4 linked regions of the Homo sapiens genome follow. The protein of the gene in region 1 interacts with the protein of each later gene in a pairwise test. Each region holds a gene or a part of one and is shown in the gene's direction. Other genes may lie near its edges. The genes, in order: CYP4F2, SPAG4, SLC19A3 and SLC17A8.

Region 1 (3,610 bases):
TCGTGTGGCTGTTTATCTAAACATCTTCCCATCAATGTGTATGTGGCTTGTTTCCAACCTTTTGCTAAAAGTGGACATGAGGCAGTCAGCATGTGTGCACAGTGACCATTCCTTGCATGTATAAGCATCTCTGCAGGACAAATTCCCTGAAGTGCAATTGCTGAATCAAAGAACATTTGCACTGTACAATTTTAATTATCATTGCAAATCCTTTCCTATTAGCTGAGTTTGATGGCACAAGTTTTCCCATAACTTTACCAATACTACTAATGTATTATTAAATTTTAAAATCTATGCCAATCTTCATATTTCTTCTTTTGATGGACATTGTTTTAAATAAGAGTGAGGTTGAACATCTCTTTCACGTGTTGATGTTTGTTTCTTTTTATGGAAGTGGTTCCTTTATTTTTTTGCTCTTTTTCTTTGGATTCTTTAAAAATATTTACTTTTAAGAATGTGTATTAAAATTGATTTTTTTTTTTTGAGATGCAGTCTCTATCGCCCAGGTTGGAGTGCAGTGGTGTGATCTCAGCTCACTGCAACCTCCACCTCCCAGGTTCAAGCCATTCTCTTGCCTCAGCCTCCCGAGTAGCTGGGACTACAGGTGCCCTCCACCATACCCCGCTAAGTTTTTGTATTTTTAGTAGAGACGGGGTTTCACTGTGTTAGCTAGGATGGTCTCGATCTCCTCATGTTGTGATCCACCTGCCTTAGCCTCCCAAAGTGCTGGGATTACAGGCATGAGCCACCACGCCCAGCCAAAATTGATTTTTTTTTTTCTGTCTTGGGTTGCAAAATATTGCCTTTCAACTTTTGGAGGGTACTTTTCATTACTATCCTTTATCTGCAAAAACTACCATCTTGAGCATATTCAACTTCTGTGAAGTTAAATTGATCCACTTTTTTCTTTTACAACTGTAAAATCCATCAGTTTCCCAGGATTTTGGTTTGAGCAGGGGCTGTCTTTATCAAATGTGAAGTTTTCACTTATTCTCATGTCTTTTTCTGAGCTCTCCCTCATGTTCCATGGGTCTGTTTTCTCATTTTTGCCACAGTGCCACACTATTTTTATTCTTGCGACTTTGTAACAATTCTTGTTAAAAGTTTATTTTATTGCGGGGAGAAAAGGTCTCACTTGCAAACAGAGAGAAGCTGGAGAATTGTGTCTTTGCTCCCTTGATAAGGATTGGGGCTGGGGTGTTTCCTTAGGGACGACCTGGCCCATTTGCCCTTCCTGACCATGTGCATGAAGGAGAGCCTGCGGCTGCATCCCCCAGTCCCGGTCATCTCCCGCCATGTCACCCAGGACATTGTGCTCCCAGACGGCCGGGTCATCCCCAAAGGTGCTCACAGCCTCACGGGGAGGAGTCTCCTGGGTAGGAAGAGGGGCCCCTCAGTGAAGGAGGCCTTCTCCTGACTGCTCCCTTCTCTCCCACAGGCATTATCTGCCTCATCAGTGTTTTCGGAACCCATCACAACCCAGCTGTGTGGCCGGACCCTGAGGTGCGGGGCCCCTCTCTCTGTTTTTGTCCATTCCAAGGCTCCTAGAGGAGGGGGCAGGGTTTTGATCAGGAGTATCCAACATCACCTCCCTCAAAGACACACACAACTGTCTGTCTCTCCAAGGCTGGCGGACTGGGAGACCCCACCCAACAACCCTTCTTGGTCTCACCTCCAGGTCTACGACCCCTTTCGCTTTGACCCAGAGAACATCAAGGAGAGGTCACCTCTGGCTTTTATTCCCTTCTCGGCAGGGCCCAGGTAAGGGCGGCCTGTGTCTGAGGTGGGAACGGGTTGATGGGTGCAGGGGTCTGGGCATGACAGTGGGGAAAAGGGGGACATTGTAGATGGTCCAAGTTCCAGCTCTCTTTCCCTCACCTCCTCTGGAGTTTATAGGAAAAGGTCCATAGAGTACGGTTGGGTTGGTCCTAGAAGGGTCTGTGGTGTGCTCAGAGCCCCCTCCTACCCCACCTTGGTCTAGGCTGGGGGTTGGAGCTCGGCTAGGCTTGCAGGATATGCAAGCCCGCATGGGGATCCAGGCACGGATACCCCCTTCTCTATTCCTCAAACTGCTCTAGGTGGGGTTGGGTGTCCCAGGCCAGGTTACCGGCTTGATGGGGCCAGGATGGGGCTCCTGGGTGCAGTCAGAGTTCCCACCTCCCTCCCCTAGGAACTGCATCGGGCAGACGTTCGCGATGGCGGAGATGAAGGTGGTCCTGGCGCTCACGCTGCTGCGCTTCCGCGTCCTGCCTGACCACACCGAGCCCCGCAGGAAGCCGGAGCTGGTCCTGCGCGCAGAGGGCGGACTTTGGCTGCGGGTGGAGCCCCTGAGCTGAGTTCTGCAGAGACCCACTCTGACCCCACTAAAATGACCCCTGATTCATCAAAAGTGAAGCCTAGAATTACCCTAAGACCCTGTTCCACAGTCCTGTATTCCATCCTAGATATCTACTCAAAATAATTGAGACAAGTGTTCAAACAGAAAGACGCTTGTGCGTGAATGTTCATGGCGGCCCTATTCACAGTAGCCAAACGATGAAAACAACCCCAAGCTATATATTACCAGATGAAAGGATAAACAAAATGTGGTCCATCCATACAATGGAGTATTACACAGCCATAAAAAGGAATGAAGCAGTGATCCCTACTACACTGTGGATGAACCTTGAATGCATGATACTGAATGAAAGACGTCAGATGCAAAAGGTCACATAGTGTACTGTCCTTTTATACGAAATTTCCAGAACAGGCCAATCTGAAGAGATGCATAGCGGATTGGTGGCTTTCAGCAGCTGTGGGGAGGTGGGACTGAGGAGCGACTGCTAATCAGTATGGGGTTTCCTCCCGGGATGGTGAAAATGTTCCGGACCTAGATAGTGACGAAGGTAGCACGACACTGTGAGTGCACTAAATGCTATTGAATTGGACACTTTGAAATGGTGAATTTCGTGGTATGTGAATTCTACCTCAATCAAAAAAATTTGCTATTTTATCTCACATACATTTTTTTTCTGTCCAGGTTGTTCATATAATAATATGCTGTGAGCATCTTTCCATGACATTAAATCATCTTAGGAAACATTATTTTGTGGTCCTCAAAATGTGTGTGTTAAGTGTTCAAATCAGTCTTAATTTAAAAAAAGACATCATATTAGAAAATAAAAGTGTTTTGTCTCACTTTGTAAGAATTAGCTTCATATACATTGACTATTAGTAACAAATTGAGTTATTCTTCATCAAGTAACTTTTGGGGTAGAGATCTCATTTTCACAGCAATAGATGCACAAATATTCATGTAAGATACAGGTGTGGTTAGACACCTTTCATAGAACAGTTATGATCTGGAAATTCCACAGACACTGAATATTTTGGTCGTATTAACAGAAGTAGATCACTGAGAAGGGAGAAGGTGACTTTTCAGCTCCCCCAGGTAAATGCTGATTTCATCCTCACATCGATCTTACAGATTGTAGATGAACTCACTTGTTCAAGGTCACTCAGTGAAGGGTGGAGTCAGGGGTGAATCTGAGCAGTTGGCATCAGAGGTCATGCCTTATCGTATCAAGGACATGATTTTCAAAGCGAGTCTCAGCCCTAGGCACATCAGATT
Region 2 (7,676 bases), on another chromosome or scaffold:
GCTGAACGTGTTCTGGGCCATGTAATGTGTACAGTTTGGCCTGAACACAAGGAATGTACTGGGCGGCGGCAGCAGCAGCAGCAGATAAGATTAGACAGTCAGAGGAGCTGGGTCTTGCTGTGTGACCTTGAGCCAGTCATGGTCCCTTCTTGTGCTTCAGCTTTTCCATCTCAGTACTGGGTTGGAAAGCCCTGTTCTGCCTATTTCTCCATTGTTGTTGTTTTGAGATGGAGTCTCACTCTGTCACCCAGGTTGGAGTGCAGTGGTGTGATCTTGGCTCACTGCAACCTCCACCTCCCGGGTTCAAGCGATTATCCTGCCTCAGCCTCCTGAGTAGCTGGGATTAATAGATGTGCACCACCATACCTGGCTAATGTTTTTATTTTTAGTAGAGATGGGGTTTCACCATGTTGGCCAGGCTGGTCTTGAACTCCTGACCTCAGCTGATCAGCCCTTCTAGGCCTCCCAAAGTGCTGGGATTACAGAAGTGAGCCACTGCACCTGGCCAGTTGTTATGTATTCAAATGAGTTTGAGGGTCTAAACCACATCAGACAAGAGGGACAGGCTGTTCTGTTTTTTAAAAAGGCCCAGATTAGACCTGAAACCCTCAGATGCTGGAGGAAGGCTTCACCTCCCCACAGTCTTTTTTTTTTTTTTAAGACAGTGTCAGCCAGGCACAGTGGCTCATGCCTGTAATCCCAGCACTTTGGGAGGCTGAGGAAGGCGGGTCAAGAGGTCAGGAGATCGAGACCATCCTGGCTAACATGGTGAAACCCCATCTCTACTGAAAATACAAAAAATTAGCTGGGCTTGGTGGTGGGCACCTGTAGTCCTAGCTACTCGGGAGGCTGAGGCAGGAGAATGGTGTGAACCTGGGAGGCGGAGCTTGCAGTGAGCCAACATCGTGCCACTGCACTCCAGCCTGGGTGACAGAGCAAGACTCTGTCTCAAAAAAAAAAAAAAAAGACTGTCTTACTCTGTTGCCCAGGCTGGAGTACAGTGGTGCGATCTCAGCTCACTGCAACTTCCGCTTCCTAGGTTCAACCAATTCCCTAACTCACCCTCCCCAGTAGTTGGGATGACAGGTGTGCACCACCACGCCTGGCTAATTTTTGTATTTTTAGTACAGAGACGGGGTTTCACCATGTTGGTCAGGCTGGTCTATGAACTCCTGATCTTGTGAGCCCGCCTCAGCCTCCCAAAGTGCTAGGATTACAGGCGTGAGCCACTGTGCCCGGCTCACCTCTATTAAAAGGACCCAAAGGAGTTAACGGACAGAAAACGTGGCAGAGGCAGAGATGGGGTGGTATGGACCAGAATTTGTAGTTTGCAGTGATTTCGCCTTCCTCTCCCTTCTTCCGTGTGGGCCCTGTGGCACCTAATGAAGCAAGGTATTGAGATCATCCCTCTGGAGCCTGGCATGGGCATCTCCCCTCTGGGCTAGAACATAGCTTAACAGATTGTCCGTGTGCCTCAACCCCTCAAAAACTGCCACTTCCAGTTCCTAACATTCTTGTTTTGTTTTGAGACGAAGTCTTGCTCTGTCACCCAGGCTGGAGTGCAGTGGTGCGATCCCAGCTCACTATGACCTCCGCCTCCCAGGTTCAAGCGATTCTTCTGCCTCAGCCTCCCAAGTAGTTGGAACTACAGGCACACGCCACCACACCCAGCTAATTTTTGTATTTTTAGTAGACATGGAGTTTCACCATATTGGCCAGGTTGGTCTTGAACTCTTGACCTCAAGTGATCCACTGCCTGGGTCTCACACAGTGCTGGGAGTACAGGCGTGAGCCGTCATGCCCGGCCCCAGCTCCTCACATTCTAAGGAAGTTGTGAGATGGCAGTTAAGAGGACTGCACTCGAGGGCAGGATTTGGGAATTCTAATGTGATGCAGTGTTATTCCTCTACCTGGACCTGTTTGCCTAGCTGTGCAACTTGTGCATGACATACTGCATTGTCTTTCAAAATGTGGTTGTTGTTTTTCTTTTTTCTTTTTTTTTTTTTTGAGACAGAGTCTCACTCTGTGGCTCAGGCTGGAGTGCAGTGGCACAATCTTGGCTCACCGCAACCTCTGCCTTCTGGGATCAAGTGATTCTCCCGCCTCAGCCTCCCAAGTAGCTGGGACTACAGGCACGGGCCACCACGCCCGGCTAATTTTTGTATTTTTAGTAGAGATGGGGTTTCACCATGTTGGCCAGGCTGGTCTCAAACTCCTCACATCAGGTGATTCGCCCACCTCAACCTCTCAAAGTGCTGGGATTGCAGGCGTGAGCCACCAAGCCTGGCCCCAAAATGTGGTCTTTAACCAGGATCACAAATGTGGTTGTTAAAAATGCACACTCCAGCCGGGCACAGTGGCTCATACCTGTAATCCCAGCACTTTGGGAGGCCGAGGTGGGCGAATCACCTGAGGTCCCGAGTTCGAGACCACCCTAGCCAACATAGTGCAATCCCGTCTCTACTAAAAATACAAAAAAAAAAAAAGTTAGCCAGGTGTGGTGGCACATGCCTGTAATCCCAGCTATTTTGGAGGCTGAGGCGGGATAATTGCTTGAACCCAGGAGGCAGAGGTTGCAGTGAGCCGAGATCGTACCATTGTATTCCAGCCTGGCCACAGAGCAAGACTCTGCCTAAAAAATAAACAAAAACAAAACAAAAGCACATTCCTGGGCCAACTCAGAAATTCTGCAGTATCTGCAGTAGAATCACAAGGTGTGCCTGGGAAGCTGAATTTCTATAAGCTGCACTGATATTCTGTTACATAGCAAGAGTTTGGGGACCTCTAGTCTTCTGGCTGTGACCATCTGATTCCTCATTCTTTCCTCCATGGCTCAGGTGTGCAGCCTGAGTGTGGGTATGACGATTGGTGGGTGCTGAATTCTCAACCCACAGACCCCTGGGAAAAATGGGTCTGGAGGAGGGACCCACAGATCCTGAATGAGCTCTCTGACCTGATGTCTAGGATGAGAGGAGGGGGCTGAAGGGCTTGCAGAGCAAAGGGGACTAAGTATTTAGAAGTGCCCTGAGTGATGCCCTGCTCCTTCTTAACATTCATTATTTGCAAATATTTGAGCACCTACTACATGCTAGGCTTATCTAGGTGCTGGAGGATACAGTAGTGAATGAAAATCTGTGCCCTGATTAAGTTTATGTTCTAGTGGGCATGGCAGGCAATAAGGAAATAAATAAATGGGCCAGGCATGGTGGCTCACATCTGTAATCCCAGCACTTTGGGAGGCAGAAGTGGGTGGATCACTCAAGCTCAGGAGTTGAAGACCAGCCTGGGCAACATAGCGAGACCCCATCTCTACAAAAAATACAAAAATTAGCTGGGTGTGGTGGCGCAAGCCTGTAGTCCCAGCTACTCGGGAGGCTGAGGCGGGAGGATTGCTTGAGGCCGGGAGATGGAGGTTGCAGTGAGCTGAGATCATGCCACTGCACTCCAGCCTGGGCAACAGAGCGAGACTCCATCTCAAAGAAAGAGAGAAATGAAATATATAGCATGTTAGTGACACGTGCTGAGGAGAAAAACAAAACAGGGAAGGGGGATAGAAACTGGTATTTGCTAAGTGCAATTTTAGATGGGGTTTTCTAGGAAGTGCTGTGACGTCATCACTTGCTTTAAAAGAGGCCAGGCGCAGTAGCTGACTCCTGTAATCCCAGCACTTTGGGAGCCCCAGGCAGGCGGATAACCTGAGGTCAGGAGTTCACGACCAGCCTGGCCAACATGGTAAAACCCCGTCTCTACAAAAATACAAAAATTAGCCAGGCATGATGGCGGGTGTCTGTAATCCCAACTACTCGGGAGGCTGAGGCAGGAGAATCGCTTGAACCCGGGAGGCGGAGGTTGCACTGAGCCGAGATTGCACTACTGCCCTCCAGCCTGGGCGACACAGCAGGACTCTGTCTCAAAAAATAAAAATAAAATAAAAATAAAAATGCTGGGCGCAGTGGCTCATGCCTGTAATCCCAGCACTTTAGGAGGCCGGGGCGGGTGGATCACCTGAGATCGGGAGTTCAAGACCAGCCTGACTAACATGGAGAAACCCCGTCTCTACTAAAAATACAAAATTAGCCAGGCATGGTGGTGCATGTCTGTAATCCCAGCCACTCAGGAGGCTGAGGCGGGAGAATCGCTTGAACCCGGGAGGCGGAGGTTGCAGTGGACCAAGATCGCGCCATTGCACTCCAGCCTGGGCAACAGAATGAGACTCCATCTCAAAAAAAAAAAAAAAAGAAAGAAAGAAAGAAAGAAAGAAAGAAAGAAAGAAAGAAAGAAAGAAAGAAAGAAAGAAAGAAAAAAACTGTTATAGACTGAGTGCCATTTTAGATGGGGTTTTCTGGGAAGTGCTGTGACATCATCGCTTGCTGTAAAAGAGGCCGGGCGCGGTGGCTGACGCCTGTACTCCCAGCGCTTTGGGAGGCCGAGGCGGGAGGATCGCTTGAGCCTAGGAGTTCGAAGTTACAATGAGCTATGATCAGGCCACTGCACTCCAGCCTGGGCAATGAGAAAGACCCTGTCTCTTAAACAACAACAAAGTCAGAAGGAGAGGCTGCCATGGCTACGGCTCCAGGTGACGTCACGGCCAGCTCCGTGACGCGCGGCCAGGGCAGCCCGCGGAGACCGAGGCTCCTCTGTGACGTCAGCAGCCGGCCGGGACACAGCGGGAGGGCAGGTGCGGCCGCGGGGCCTGCCGACTTCACGCAGGGTCCGTGGGGTCCCCGCGGCGCGCAGCGGCTGAAGGAGGCCCCAGGGCCTTGGCGACCGCAGCGGCGGCTTTAGCGTCAGTGACTAGGCAGCAGGGGGTCAGGATGCGGCGAAGCTCCCGCCCGGGCTCGGCCTCGTCCTCGCGCAAGCACACGCCCAACTTTTTCAGCGAGAACAGCTCAATGAGCATCACCTCGGAGGACAGCAAAGGGCTCCGGTCAGCGGAGCCCGGGCCTGGGGAGCCCGAGGGCAGAAGAGCCCGGGGCCCGAGCTGCGGTGAGCCCGCCTTGAGCGCGGGAGTGCCCGGAGGAACCACATGGGCAGGAAGCTCTCAGCAGAAGCCAGCGCCTCGGAGCCACAACTGGCAGACAGCCTGTGGCGCGGCAACCGTGAGGGGCGGGGCCTCGGGTGCGGGCGGGGTCGACCCCGGGTGAGCCAGTGGAGGGGGCGGGGCCTAAAGGGCGGTGCTGGGCGGGGACGGGGCTAAGATGATATCTGGGCACCTCCTACAAGGTGGGTCCTGTAGGGTAAAGGGATGGTGCTAAATGAGATCCCTTAAGGGGCGGAGCCTCGGTGTCCTGGACGGTTATGGGAAGGGGCGGGGAAAATCTTGTGGTTGGGTGCCACTGAGGGGGCGCGGCCTCAATGTTAGCGTGAGTGGCTCCCAGGACAATTGGGTTCCACCAAGATCTAAGGCTGGGGGCGGGTCATCCGTTTGGGGGAGGGACCAACTCTTTTTTTTTTTTTTTTGCAACGGAGTTTCGCTCCTGTTGCCCATGCCATGCAATGGCATGATCTCGGCTCACCGCAACCTCCGCCTCCCGGGTTCAAACGATTCTCCCGCCTCAGCCTCCCGAGTAGCTGGGATTACAGGCGTGCGCCACCATGCCCGGCCAATTTTTGTGTTTTTAGTAGAGACGGGGTTTCTCCGTGTTAATCAGGCTGGCCTCGAACTCCCGACCTCAGGTGATCCGCCCGCCTCGGCCTCCCAAATCGCTGGGATTACAGGCGTGAGCCACCGCGCCCGGCCAGGAGACCAACTCTTGACGGAGCCTCCCTGAGGGGCGGGGCTTCAGAGGGCGGAGCTGGAGCCGGGATAGGGCTGCGGTGGGACCAAAGCCTGTGAGAGACTTCCCAGCTGTCTGGCTTGTGGACTGAGCAATCTGCGGCCCGGTCTCGAGGGGAAAATAGGTCTGTGGTCCGCAAGGCCCCAGTGGAGCCCTTGGGTTCCCGCAGAACCGACTGGGTCTCCAGTAGTCTCTGAGGAGCCGCTCGACCTTCTCCCGACCCTGGATCTGAGGCAGGAGATGCCTCCCCCGCGGGTGTTCAAGAGCTTTCTGAGTACGGGCCAGGCCAGCTGCGATCCCCTCTGACCCTCGGGTTCCCCTCTCCGAACTCCAGTTCTCTCTGAGCCCCCGGCCCCCGTTTGAGTATCGAGCCCCTCTCCGAGCCTCAACTCATTCCTAGCCCCCATCCAATTATCCTAGCCGACCCTCTCTTCCTGAGCCCCAGGCCCACCCCCGGCCCCTCCCAAGCCCCTTCTGAACCCGGACACCACGCAGGCTGAGCCCCGCCTCTCCCTGCCGTGGGCCCCTCTCTGACCCTCTGTCCTGGCCTCAGGCCTGCTCTTCCAGGGGCTGAGCGTGTTGTTATCCCTGGCAGGAGACGTGCTGGTCAGCATGTACAGGTCAGAGGAAGGGACGCTGGCGCCCCAGGAACAGCTCTTTGGAGGGGGTGGGGAGCAGGGCCGGAACCTTGCTGGCGCTTGAGCCGATTCAGATCTGATTGAGTCATGTTGGCAAGAGCTGGGTCTAGGACCCTGGGGTGGGGACTGGAGGGTTGAGCAGGTCGGGGCCTCAGCCTCCCTCCGGTTCCCCAGGGAGGTCTGTTCCATCCGCTTCCTGTTCACGGCTGTGTCGCTGCTGAGCCTCTTTCTGTCAGGTGAGGGGCAGTGAATTCCCTGGAGCCCCTGCCCTGGGTGCTTTGGAGGCAAACCCAGCACATTTTCTCCTACATCCTCGGTCCTGCAGCTCCTGGCATTCCCCTGCAGAACCCCCTAATTCCCCCTCAGACTCCCACGGTCCTCCCCAGGCTTAACCCCCTCAAGCCTCTTTCCACTGTCCCCCTATGCCGGGGAAACCCATTCTCTTCCTTTTCCTTCTGAGACCCCTCCCTCTCTTTCTCCAGCATTCTGGCTGGGGCTTCTGTACCTGGTCTCTCCTTTGGAGAATGTGAGTTGGGGAGACTGTCTTGGGGTAGGGGGTTGGCAGGTTGTGAACCCGGAGATTGTGGGGGTCCCCTGGACTGTCGGTCTGCTGGGGTGGGGGTAGTGCCAGAGGCTACAATCCTTAAGAAAGGGCTGGATATAAACAGACTTATGAGGGATTGTGCTTGAGGGTCTCTTGGGGGCTCTGATACTGGGAGGTCAAGGAGGAGTCGAGGAAAGGGGACACAGTCTTCAAAAAGGAAGCCCTGGCCGTTTCCAGGCTGAGGTAGGAGCAAGGACGACGGGAGCTGAGCGGCTCTGTGTTTTGTCCCTTCATCCAACAGGAACCTAAGGAGATGCTGACTCTAAGGTGAAAGAGGGCACCTAGGGTGGGAAATTGGGGGGCTCAAAGTTGCTTCTTTGAGAACCTTGAAGGCGTGGGGGCCTTTGGGAGGTGTCCAGGGGGACAGGGAGCCAACCCCACGGCGCCCACCTCCCACCTCCAGTGAGTACCACGAGCGCGTGCGCTCCCAGGGGCAGCAGCTGCAGCAGCTCCAGGCCGAGCTGGATAAACTCCACAAGGAGGTGTCCACTGTTCGGGCAGCCAACAGCGAGGTGAGCCCCGGCCCACCTTGGAAACCCCTGATGGATCCCTGCTCCCAGGGTCCTGAGACTTAAGCTCCGCCCAGAGCCCTGCGGGATTTCTCCCGGTGCCCACGAAGTCCATCCCAAAGCAACCAGCTCCCAGAGGTCCCGTCCA
Region 3 (3,766 bases), on another chromosome or scaffold:
TAACTGGACTGACCCTATTGCTAGGCTTAAATACTTATTTGATCTTACCAAAGAAGTCAACACATGGGACCTTTGTGTCACATGAACCATTTTCTTTCCTCTTCTATTAAGTGTATTTCTGTTTAAGTTACAGTTCTCTAAGAGAATTACAATGTTTGTCCCATTTCTAAGGGCTTCTCTTCAACTCTAATAACAGCATTATTCACGTTATGATTTGATAGTATTATTATTTAATTTTTTTATGATTATTTTCCATTTTGTGCTCTGAGTTTTGCTGTTGAAAGTCTCCCTCAAGAATAGCTTCAGATCCTCTTGTGTATTTGCAGAATACACAAGGTCATTTCCCAGTGGCCTGGGAGAGGCAGTGAGCCTTCTCTCCACCACCATAGACAGGTGTTAATGCATCTATGGGCCAGGTGCAGTGGCTCACTCCTGTAATCCGAGCAATTTGGGAGGCCAAGGTGGGAGTTTTGCTTGAGGCCAGAGGTTCAAGACCAGCCTGGGCAACACAGTGACACCTGACTCTACTAAAAAATTAAAAAATTAGCTGGGCAGCGTGGTGTGTGCCTGTAGTCTCAGCTACTTGGGAGGCCATGGTGGGAGGATGGGTTGAGCACAGGAGTCAGAGGCTACAGTGAGCTATGATTGCACCATTGCACTCCAGCCTGGGCAACAGAGTAAGACTCTCATCCCCCTCCTCCCAAAAAAGAGCACCTGTGTGGTGTCTGTCTAAAATAGGAAAACTTAAAGGAGGTTTCTAGAAGTATTAGAAATAAGAAAACACTGATGGGGGGAGTGGAATAAAACACCTGATTTTGTTTTGTTTTGGTTTTTGAGACAGTCTCGCTCTCTCACCCAGGCTGGAATGCAATGGCGTGATCTTGGCTCACTGCAAACTTCACCTCCTGAGTTCAAGCCATTCTCCTACCTCAGCCTCCCAAGTAGCTGGGACTATGGGTGCACACCACCACGCCTGGCTAATTTTTGTATTTTTAGTGGAGATGGGGTTTCACAATGTTGGCCAGGCTGGTCTCAAACTCCTGACTTCAGGTGATCTGTCTGCCTCGGCCTCCCAAAGAGCTGAGATTACAGGCGTGAGCCACCATGCCTGGCCAAAACACCTGATTTTTAAATGGTAGCAATTGTGCTAAATAAAATGTGTAAAAATTTTAAAGAGTTGTTAACATTTTTTGATGAATTCTGCTGAAAATTATCTGAACATACCTGTTTTTCGAAACTTCAAGAAACTTCAATAAGGGATGCATTGAGCAGTCTGACAGTGAGAATAAAGAATGCTGAGTCAAGATTTATATTAAGGCTGGAAGCTGTGGCTCACACCTGTAATCCCAGCATTTTGGGAGGCTGAAGTGAGAGGTTAATTTGAGGGTAGGGGTATGAGACCATCTTGGCCAATATAGCAAGACCCTGTGTCTAAAACAAACAAAAAAATTTTTAATTGGATTTTGATATGGTTTGGATCTGTGTCCCCACCAAATCTCACGTTGAAGTGTAATCCCCAATGTTAGAGGTGGGGCCGGCTGGGAGGCGACTGGATCATGGGTGTGAAGCCTTCATGAATGGTTTGGCACCGTCCCCTCAGTGCTGGTCTCATGACAGTGAGTTATCGTGAGATCTGGTAGTTTAAAAGTGTGTAGCACCTCCCCACTCTCTCTTTCTCCTGCTTTGGCCACGTGAAGATGCCTGCTCCCACTTTGCCTTCTGCCATGAGTAAAAATTCCCCGAGGACTCCCTAGAAGCAGATGTTGCCACGCTTCCTATATAGCCTGTGAGCTAATTAAACCCCTTTTCTTACAAACTATCTAGTCTCAGGTGTTTCTTTATAGCAATGTGATAATGGACTAATATGTTTCTCAAGTATACTCCTCTCCAAATCCCGAAATTCTTCACTGGACTAAGATCCAGCCCAAGAATCAATGCACTCACTTAGTGGAGAAAACTAATAACATTCCTACTTACATTAAAGGCAAGGAAGGAATGGCCGCTATTCTTTTTCTTCTTCTTCTTTTTTTTTTTTTTTTTTTTTTTTTGATAGAATCTTGCTCTGTCACCCAGGCTGGAGTGCAATGACGCAATGTCAGCTCACTGCAACCTCCGCCTCCCGGGTTCAAGCAATTCTCCTGCCTCAGCCTCCCGAGTAGCTGGGATTACAGGCGTGCACCACCATGCCCGGCTGATTTTTGTATATTTAGTAGAGACGGGGTTTCACCATGTTGGTCAGGCTGGTTTCAAACTCCTGGTCTCAGGTGATCCGCCCGTCTCGGTCTCCCAAAGTGTTGGGATTACAGGCTTCAGCCACCTCACACCCAGTCTATTATCCTTCTTTTTTAACTTATTATTCTGGAGGCATTAGGCATCACAATTAGACAAACAAGAAAAATCAGAGGTCAGAAATTGGAAAGGAGGCCAGGTGCAGTGGCTCACGCCTGTAATCCCAACACTTTGGGAGGCTGAGGCGGTCAGATCACATGAGGCCAGGAATTGGAGGCAAGCCTGGGCAACATGATGAAACCCTGTATGTACTAAAAACAACAAAATTAGCCGGGTGTGGTCCATGCCTGTAATCCCAGCCACTCGGTGGCTGAAGCATAAGAGTCACTTAAACCCAGGAGGCAGAGGTTGCAGTGAGTTGAGATTGTGCCACTGCACTCCAGCCTGAGCGACAGAGTGAGACCCAAAGTGGATTAAAAAATGCATTATGATTCCTTCACATATTCACCTATAACAAAATTAACTGCTAAAAAATGAGGAAGATCTTTAGTGACACAGAACTCTAAGAGCTCTACTATCAAGTGGAAAAAAGTCAAGCACCAAAATAATAATGAACGCAGCAACTCAGCATTTGTATAAAAAGGACAAAAATATCTGTATTGGCTTATATATGCGTATAACTTTTCTAAAAAGACAAATGAGGCCTGGCACGGTGGCTCATGCCTGTAATCCTGGCACTTTGGGAGGCTGAGGTAGGTGGATTGCTTGAGTTCAGGAGTTCAAAACCAGCCTAGGCAACATGGCAAAACCCTGTCTCTACAAAAAATACAAAAATTAGCTGGGCATGGTGGCTTGCACCTGGACTCCCAGCTACTTGAGGGGATGAGAAGGGAGGATCGCTTGAGCCCAGGAGGTGGAGGTTGCAGTGAGCTGAGATCATGCCACTGCACTCCAGCCCTGATGACAGAGTGAGACCCTGTCTTGAACAAACAAACCAACAATCAAACAAATAAATAAACAACTGAAACTCATACCAATGATTGCCTACTGTGGAGTAATGGGAAATGGGAGGGAGACATCACATTCTCATGGTGTTTGATGCTTGCACCAAATGAATAACCCACCAGTAAATTAAAATACGACTTTTACAAAAAAGCATTTAACCTCTTGGGAAATAAATTCGCATTGAAGAATAAGGAGCTGGAGATTTGCCATGCAACCATTATGATAGTTTTATATTTTTGGCAATGTGAATGGATTACTAAATGTGCATTTATAATTAAAAGGAACAAACAACAGAAGAAAAAAATAAGTGGGCCTGGTTGGGCACCTTGGCTTGTTCCTGGAATCCCACCACTTTGGGAGGCTGAGGAGGGAGGATCGCTTGAGCCCAGGAGTTTAAGACCACCCTGGGCAACATAGTGAGACTCCATCTCAAAAAAATTAATAATAATAAGTAGACCTGACATTGAAAAATTAAATTAAAATTTTTTATTTGGTATCTCAGTAATGAAAAAAATTTTTTAAATAATGACCC
Region 4 (7,058 bases), on another chromosome or scaffold:
ATTGTCTTTCTTTAAATACCAGTTAACAAGAGGAACGTCAACAAAATACTTACCCCTAGCTGAACATACTGCCATTTGGAAATATTGTAAAGATCCTTTTGTAGTTCATAAATGTGATAATTGGGTGTTCACGTGCATGTATGAGATGTCTGAGTCCCTCAAACCTTGTTACAACATTGGTACATTACCCATTTTACCTGAAAAAAATATATATGGTAAAAATTGAAAAATTTAGAAACGGAAGAAAATGAGACCATATAACCCAGCCTTTTCTTTTTTAACTGCAGGCATGTTTGGGATTATTTGGTACATGTTTTGGCTGTTGCAGGCCTATGAGTGCCCAGCAGCTCATCCAACAATATCCAATGAGGAGAAGACCTATATAGAGACAAGCATAGGAGAGGGGGCCAACGTGGTTAGTCTAAGTGTAAGTATAAAAAGTCAGATGAAGACTTACCTTTTTTCATAAGTGATTGTGTTGCCTTCTTACAGAAAAAATGTCAATATCTTTACTAAAAATATCATGGTATTTTTACTCCCTAGAAATTTAGTACCCCATGGAAAAGATTTTTCACATCTTTGCCGGTTTATGCAATCATTGTGGCAAATTTTTGCAGAAGCTGGACCTTTTATTTGCTCCTCATAAGTCAGCCTGCTTATTTTGAAGAGGTCTTTGGATTTGCAATAAGTAAGGTAAACACACAGATGCTCCAAATATTTTTGAACTTTAAATCTCTTGATTCTACAGAGAATAACTTTGTATGATAAAATAATTAAATTGCTGATCATAATTCATAACAGTTCTGTGACACCTAATAGCCTGGCTGTCAGACAAGTTATACATTCTATGCATAGTATGCATAGCTGTTTAATTTCTTCTTAGCAAGGATCAGAGCCGTATTAAGCTGCTTTAAAGATTTATGTTGTACCCAATCTTAGAGTGTTTTTGAAGCTAGCTCAAGGACGGCATATTAGGCAAGGATAAAAAGATTTGAGGGTGTGGGTTTTCTTTTTTTCCTGTAAGCTACTCAGTGAGTAGCAGTAAGAACCTTACCATTCATTTTGCAGAACACCCCTTCTCCATAATGGTGGCTATAGCAGTAACAATCATTGCTTGCAATGGGTTAGAAAGAACCTCTTTCTGCCAGGCGTGGTGGCTCACGCCTATAATCCCAGCATTTTGGGAAGCCAAGGCTGGCGGATCACCTGAGGTTAGGACCAGCCTGACCAACATGGCAAAACCCTGCCTCTACTAAAAATACAAAAATTAGCTGGGCGTAGTGATGCACACCTGTGATCCTAGTTACTCAGGAGGCTGAGACAGGAGAATCACTTGAACCCAGGAGGCAGAGGTTGCAGTGAGGCGAGATTGCACCACTGCACTCCAGCCTGGGCAACAGAGCAAGACTCTGTCTAAAAAAAAAAAAGAAGAAGAAAAAATAAACAGAAAAAAAAGAAAGAACCTCTTTCAATGCTCCCAGACATTATCATCAAGCCAATTGTGTTTTAGGGAGGAAGGGTGTGGATAGTGAATCATCAACCATCATCATAAGATAAACCTCTTTCCTACAAGGGAAAGAACAGCAGCCGAGCAAACACAAATGTCTGCCTAGCTACAGATACTGTCAGAAGTGACCATGGAAGAGCTGGCATAATCATGAAATGGTGGCTGTCATCAGTCATCAGTGCTCACTGGGTGCCAAGTGCTTTATCTCCCATGTGCCATGCCCTCTGTGATGAATAAAAGTCATCGCTGCCCTCAAGGAGCTTCCAATCTGGTAGAGGACACAGATAGGTCTAAAATCATTCGCTCATTCATCATTTATTTATTATGAAATTCAGGCCTACCCAGCTCCCACATAATTAGATGCTTAAATTTGGTGGTGGTAGGTAGGGGGGCTGTGGAGTGGAGGTGGGCAAGGGAATTAGGGAGGCCCCTCTCTCAGAAATAATGACAAACTGCTTACTGTTTCTTTCCCTTCCAGGTGGGTCTCTTGTCAGCAGTCCCACACATGGTTATGACAATCGTTGTACCTATTGGAGGACAATTGGCTGATTATTTAAGAAGCAGACAAATTTTAACCACAACTGCTGTCAGAAAAATCATGAACTGTGGAGGTACTGTGGATTTCATAGATGGCTTAGGCAGCTTTTGTAGAATTAGGGTAAACTGAACTGCAGAGCATATATTAAGAAGTGACATTTAGTCATTGGAGTGGATCTTAAAGACCTCTAAGTCTGTCCCTCAGCAGACACTTGAGTGTTGTCCATCACAGTGCTGCCAAGAGGTCATCCAGCTGGGACCTTTCCATACATCCTTCCACATTTATTGTTTGCTTATGTAGTTTATTCCCTTCTCTGCTTACCTTTCTACCTATCCATATGTTTTGGTAAGAAACAGAAGAAAAGTAGTCTTTCCTCCTAGCCTATGCTTGTGCATGGGATATATGCACACACACACACACACACACACACACACACCATTCTCTTTCTTGATTTTATTTAGCTCCTGCTTTATGTTTTAATTTTGTAAAGACAAAGTGAATGTTAGGTGATTTCCCAAAAGAGGTAGGCGAAAGTAATTGTGAACCCCTACAATGTTCATGAGTGCTTTTTAAAAAACTCATCTTTTTTGTTTAGCTTTTAAAATTAACATTTATTGAATGCTTTCTGTGCCAGACACTAAGCTAAATCTTCTACATACATTATTTTATTTAATCTTCATAACCACCATGTGGAGCAGGTACTATTACTATATGCAATTTGCAATGAGGAAACAGAGGTAAAATAAAGGGACTTGCTCAAGTAGCAGATCCCTGCAAGGTATCAGGTAGGCCGGAGCCTACCGCCAAAGCTCTTAGTTTGCGGCTACCCCTCTGGAGGACTAGTCAGGATGAGCGAGCAGGAGGTAGAGGATAGCGCCACCTATGGGCAAGAGCTCACAACTGTGATATTAAGTTGAAAGGGACGGATTGCGTATGCTCTGACAGATAGCTAGGTCTGGCACATTTAGAAGTGAAGACTATACCGAGGGACACAGGAGCAGGCATGATCTGATCCCATAGCATTTCGGGAAGAAAGCCTAAGAGTCTGTTGGCACCTGTTCTCCCAGTTCCTTGACTGCTGGTCCCAGGCAGGGATGTGTGGGCCTGACCTTAGCTTGAACTTTCTTGTAGAGGACTGAGGGTTAGCGGATATAGGCCTGCTATCTGGTGGGCAGGAGGTGAAGCTCTGGGACATTGCATTCAAGTCCTCTCCAAGAGAGCTGTAGCAGCTAGAATAATGCCCATGTCCTAATCCTCAGAAGCTGTGAATATGTTTCCTTACATGTCAAAAGGGACTTTGCAGGTGGGATTAAATTGAGGTTCTTGAGATGGGAGTTTATCCTGCATTATCTAGGTGGGCCCAATATAATCACAATAATCCTTATAAAAGGAGGAAGGAGGGTCAGAGTCAGAAAAGAAGATGTGATGGTGGAGGCAAGAGTCAGAGTGATGCAGCCACAAACCAAGGAATGCAAGCAGACCCTAGAAGCTGGAGAAGACAAGAAGAGATTCCGCCATAGCACCTCTAGAAGGAATGCAACTCTGTAGGCTGCTGCCTTGACTTTAGCCCTGTACCATTTTGGATTTTTGGCCTCCAGAACTGTACAATAGTGCAGAGAGTATTTTAGAGGTGACATCTAATCATTGGAATAGATCTTAAAGACCCCTAAGTCTATCCCTCAGCAGATACTTGATATTTGTGTTGTTTTGAGCCACTGAGTTTGTGGTAATTTATTACAGCAGCAAATGAAAACTAACACAGCGGTAGGCAGGGTGCAGTGGCTCACTCCTGCAATCCTAGCACTTTGGGAGGTTGAGGCGGGCAGACCACTTGAGCTCAGGAGTTCGAAATCAGTCAGGGCAATAGTGAGAACTTTTCTCTATTAAAAAATAAAACATTTATAAAATGAAAACTAATACAGTAGCCAAAGCCTCACCCTTCTAATGATAAAATTCTGCTCCAGCTGAACAGCCCTCACCCAAGCCCTGAACATATCTTTCTGTCTCTGACTTTGCCCACTCCCTTTCTCTTTCCCTGTGAGTTCTCACCTTCACCTCTCAATCCAGTCCTCTCTATACATCCAGCTCAATTCTTCTCCTCTTATGTTTCCTTAAAGCCATGCCATTCTCCAGTGATCCCTCTGAATATGTCCACATGGCTAGATTGGCAACTCATCATGTGGTGCCTTATTGCAGCTCTCTCAGGAAAAGATTTTAGGCAGAGGGAATAGTATGTGCAATGACCCTGGGGCAGGCAGGAATGTGGCCTGTGTGAGAATAGAAGGAAGGGGAGTCAGAATGGCTGAGTGACGGGAGACGGGATCGGGATGTTTTTCTAGGGTCAGATCATGGCAGGCCTTGTCGGCGTATGCAGAGCTTGGGTTTTATTTGAAGTACATTGAGATGCAGATGATTTAAAGCACGGAATGGATATGATCTCATTTTTTTTTTTTTTTGAGACAGAGTCTCGCTCTGTTACCCAGGCTGGAGTGCAGTGGTGCAATCTCAGCTCACTGCAACCTCCGCCTCTTGGGTTCAAGTGATTCTCCTGCCTCAGCTTCCTGAGTAGCTGGGATTACAGGCATGGGCCACCATGCCTGGCTAATCTTTTGTATTTTTGTAGAGACAGGGTTTCACTATATTGGCCAGGCTGGTCTCAAACTCCTGACCTCAAGTAATCCGCCCGCCTCGGCCTTCCAAAGTGCTGGGATTACAGGCATGAGCCACCTCGCCTGGCCTTGCTTATTTATTTTTAATCTGGGGAATTATGCAGGGTACAAGAGTAAAAGAAGGGAGACCAGGTAGGAGGTGATTTCAGTTGTCCTGTCTAGAGAAGATGGTGGCTTAGACAAATGAGGTGGCAATGGAGATGGAGAGAGGGGGGTCAATTTCTAAATTCTCAGAGCCAACAGTTCTCATCTTTAAATTACATAATAATATTTACTTCAGAGGATAGTTATGAGAGTTAAATGATACAACGTATGAATGCACCTAGTGCGGTGTTCAACCTATAAAAAGTTCTCAACAAATGTTAATGCTGCTTTTTTTCTCCTATGTTCAAGACACAAAAAACACAGAAGTTTTTCAAAGAGTTCTTTAACAAATATCTGTGATTGTATTTCCTTTGGACAAAAAAATGTACTTCTAAACTGGCAACTTTAAATAAGTTTCTGGATTTTAAACACTACTTGCACAACCTCTTCTAAACCCAGATGCATTGGATATTCTTGAGCATATTTTGTGGGAATGTCTTGTTCCTATTTAATTCTGCCCCAGTACCTCTGCTGTTTCTCCATAATTGGTGGTGATTATGTTATGTTGTGGTGATGAGAACTTTCAAAGATGTTTAATTGCTAACAAAGTGCCTGTTGAGAGGAAATAGTTTTTTTTCTGCAGAAACTAGAAGGCATATGTGGAATCTTTCTGCCTCATCTCCCATCTTTAAAAAATACCTCTTCACATGGCTTTTCATGTTCATATATATATATATTTTTTTTGTTTGTTTGTTTTGTTTTGTTTTGTTTTTGAGATGGAGTCTCGCTCTGTCACCCAGGCTGGAGTGCAGTGGCGTGATCTCAGCTCACTGCAAGTTCCGCCTCCCAGGTTCACACCATTCTCCTGCCTCAGCCTCCCGAGTAGCTGGGACTACAGGCACCCGCCACCACACCCGGCTAATTTTTTGTATTTTTTAGTAGAGGCGGGGTTTCACCGTGTTAGCCAGGGTAGTCTCGATCTCCTGACCTTGTGATCCACCCACCTCGGCCTCCCAAAGTGCTGGGATTACAGGCATGAGCCACCGTGCCCGGCCATTCTTTTATATTTTGACATAGTAGGACCAGTGAGTTATATATAGAAAATAAAATTTTTAAAAAGACCATAATGGTCCCACTTTTTCTGCTTAAATACAGAGATGCTAGAGCAGAGATAACTACATGAAAACAAAGTTTTGTGCCATCAGTGAAGAATGCAGGTTGATTTGGAAATGATGAAGCACTGGTATGATCTTCCAGAGAATTTTGGTTGGCTTTTTGGTTTCCTACTAAGAAATATAGAAGGCATTTCTCATCTGAGAAGGATCACACATATCTTGGAGCCTGTCATCTTTTATTTCCATAGATTTTAATATGCCATTAAAATCATTTAAAGCAAAACAGATCACTTAAGACATGATGTTCAATTCATTCTGAATCAGGGTCTACGTCTATGATGCTTAAAGACAGATGCCAAATTCTTGTCCTGCCCCCTCTATAGAACATGCAAAGTGTAACTGAGGTCAAAAATTCTATTCTGGCTGAATCAGTTGCAAGTGTGAACTTCAGATTATTTTAATATGAAATAAAATATTTCTTAGGCCTTTAAGTCCTAGTTTTGTTTTTCTTGTCAACTCTAAATAGGTTCAATTTTAAGGATCTCCTGATTACCCCTAAAGTTGAAATTTTATCCTTAAGCTCCTGAAACATGCAGCCCTGTCTCTAGTATTTTAACTGTCAGTAGAAACCATTTAGGCTCTTAAATGCTTTTTTTTCCACTGGCAATCTGCTATTTGGCCAAAATTTTTTTTCTTACAGATGAACTGATGTATCATTTGTAAGTTTTATTCTTTATACAATGTCATCATTCTAATTCTTTGGGGGAATTGACTTTCTGCATGCTTCTGTTCAGAGTGTAAAAATAAAAGAAGTTTCAGCCAGATGCCTTGTTATTTAGGATAGGCACTTCTAAGACACATATAGTTAGTATATGAAACACTAGCTATTTTTCCCTATGTGTAGTCTTAAATGTTGAAACAAAATTAAGAACAAGTAGCAATGATATAAAGCCTATAGTTTTAAAAGTAAGACTTCCCTAATTACATTTCATCCTCTTTAGAAGCCATTTAAAACAATTATTAGTTCTTGCCCTTCTTTATAGTAGTGTTGAAGAAATAGGTTCAAAAAGGTAAATATTAATAACTTAACCATCATTTACGGTAAGTACTTCAGCTTGTGAATCTTATTTTCTTCTTTCTGGGTC

Evidence for each region.
Region 2: the proteins of CYP4F2 (region 1) and SPAG4 interact in binary tests that used the Homo sapiens proteins (3 or more experiments, as listed by UniProt).
Region 3: the proteins of CYP4F2 (region 1) and SLC19A3 interact in binary tests that used the Homo sapiens proteins (3 or more experiments, as listed by UniProt).
Region 4: the proteins of CYP4F2 (region 1) and SLC17A8 interact in binary tests that used the Homo sapiens proteins (3 or more experiments, as listed by UniProt).

Annotation. Positions count from the first base shown.
Region 1 is NC_000019.10:15,877,497-15,881,106, reverse strand, and holds the end of CYP4F2 (cytochrome P450 4F2 precursor), read left to right. Parts: intron 1-1,209; coding exon 1,210-1,343; intron 1,344-1,438; coding exon 1,439-1,503; intron 1,504-1,678; coding exon 1,679-1,761; intron 1,762-2,170; coding exon 2,171-2,336; 3' UTR 2,337-3,084; downstream 3,085-3,610. UniProt on the Homo sapiens protein: A cytochrome P450 monooxygenase involved in the metabolism of various endogenous substrates, including fatty acids, eicosanoids and vitamins.
Region 2 is NC_000020.11:35,611,190-35,618,865, forward strand, and holds the start of SPAG4 (sperm-associated antigen 4 protein), read left to right. Parts: upstream 1-4,639; 5' UTR 4,640-4,814; coding exon 4,815-5,118; intron 5,119-5,147; exon of another isoform or gene 5,148-5,198; coding exon of another isoform or gene 5,199-5,223; intron 5,224-5,946; coding exon 5,947-6,051; intron 6,052-6,330; coding exon 6,331-6,397; intron 6,398-6,589; coding exon 6,590-6,651; intron 6,652-6,897; coding exon 6,898-6,941; intron 6,942-7,260; coding exon 7,261-7,286; intron 7,287-7,422; coding exon 7,423-7,531; intron 7,532-7,676. UniProt on the Homo sapiens protein: Involved in spermatogenesis. Required for sperm head formation but not required to establish and maintain general polarity of the sperm head. Required for anchoring and organization of the manchette.
Region 3 is NC_000002.12:227,683,263-227,687,028, reverse strand, and holds the end of SLC19A3 (thiamine transporter 2), read left to right. Parts: 3' UTR 1-3,266; downstream 3,267-3,766. UniProt on the Homo sapiens protein: Mediates high affinity thiamine uptake, probably via a proton anti-port mechanism. Has no folate transport activity. Mediates H(+)-dependent pyridoxine transport.
Region 4 is NC_000012.12:100,402,053-100,409,110, forward strand, and holds part of SLC17A8 (vesicular glutamate transporter 3), read left to right. Parts: intron 1-92; exon of another isoform or gene 93-198; intron 199-287; coding exon 288-427; intron 428-543; coding exon 544-693; intron 694-1,985; coding exon 1,986-2,118; intron 2,119-7,058. UniProt on the Homo sapiens protein: Multifunctional transporter that transports L-glutamate as well as multiple ions such as chloride, sodium and phosphate.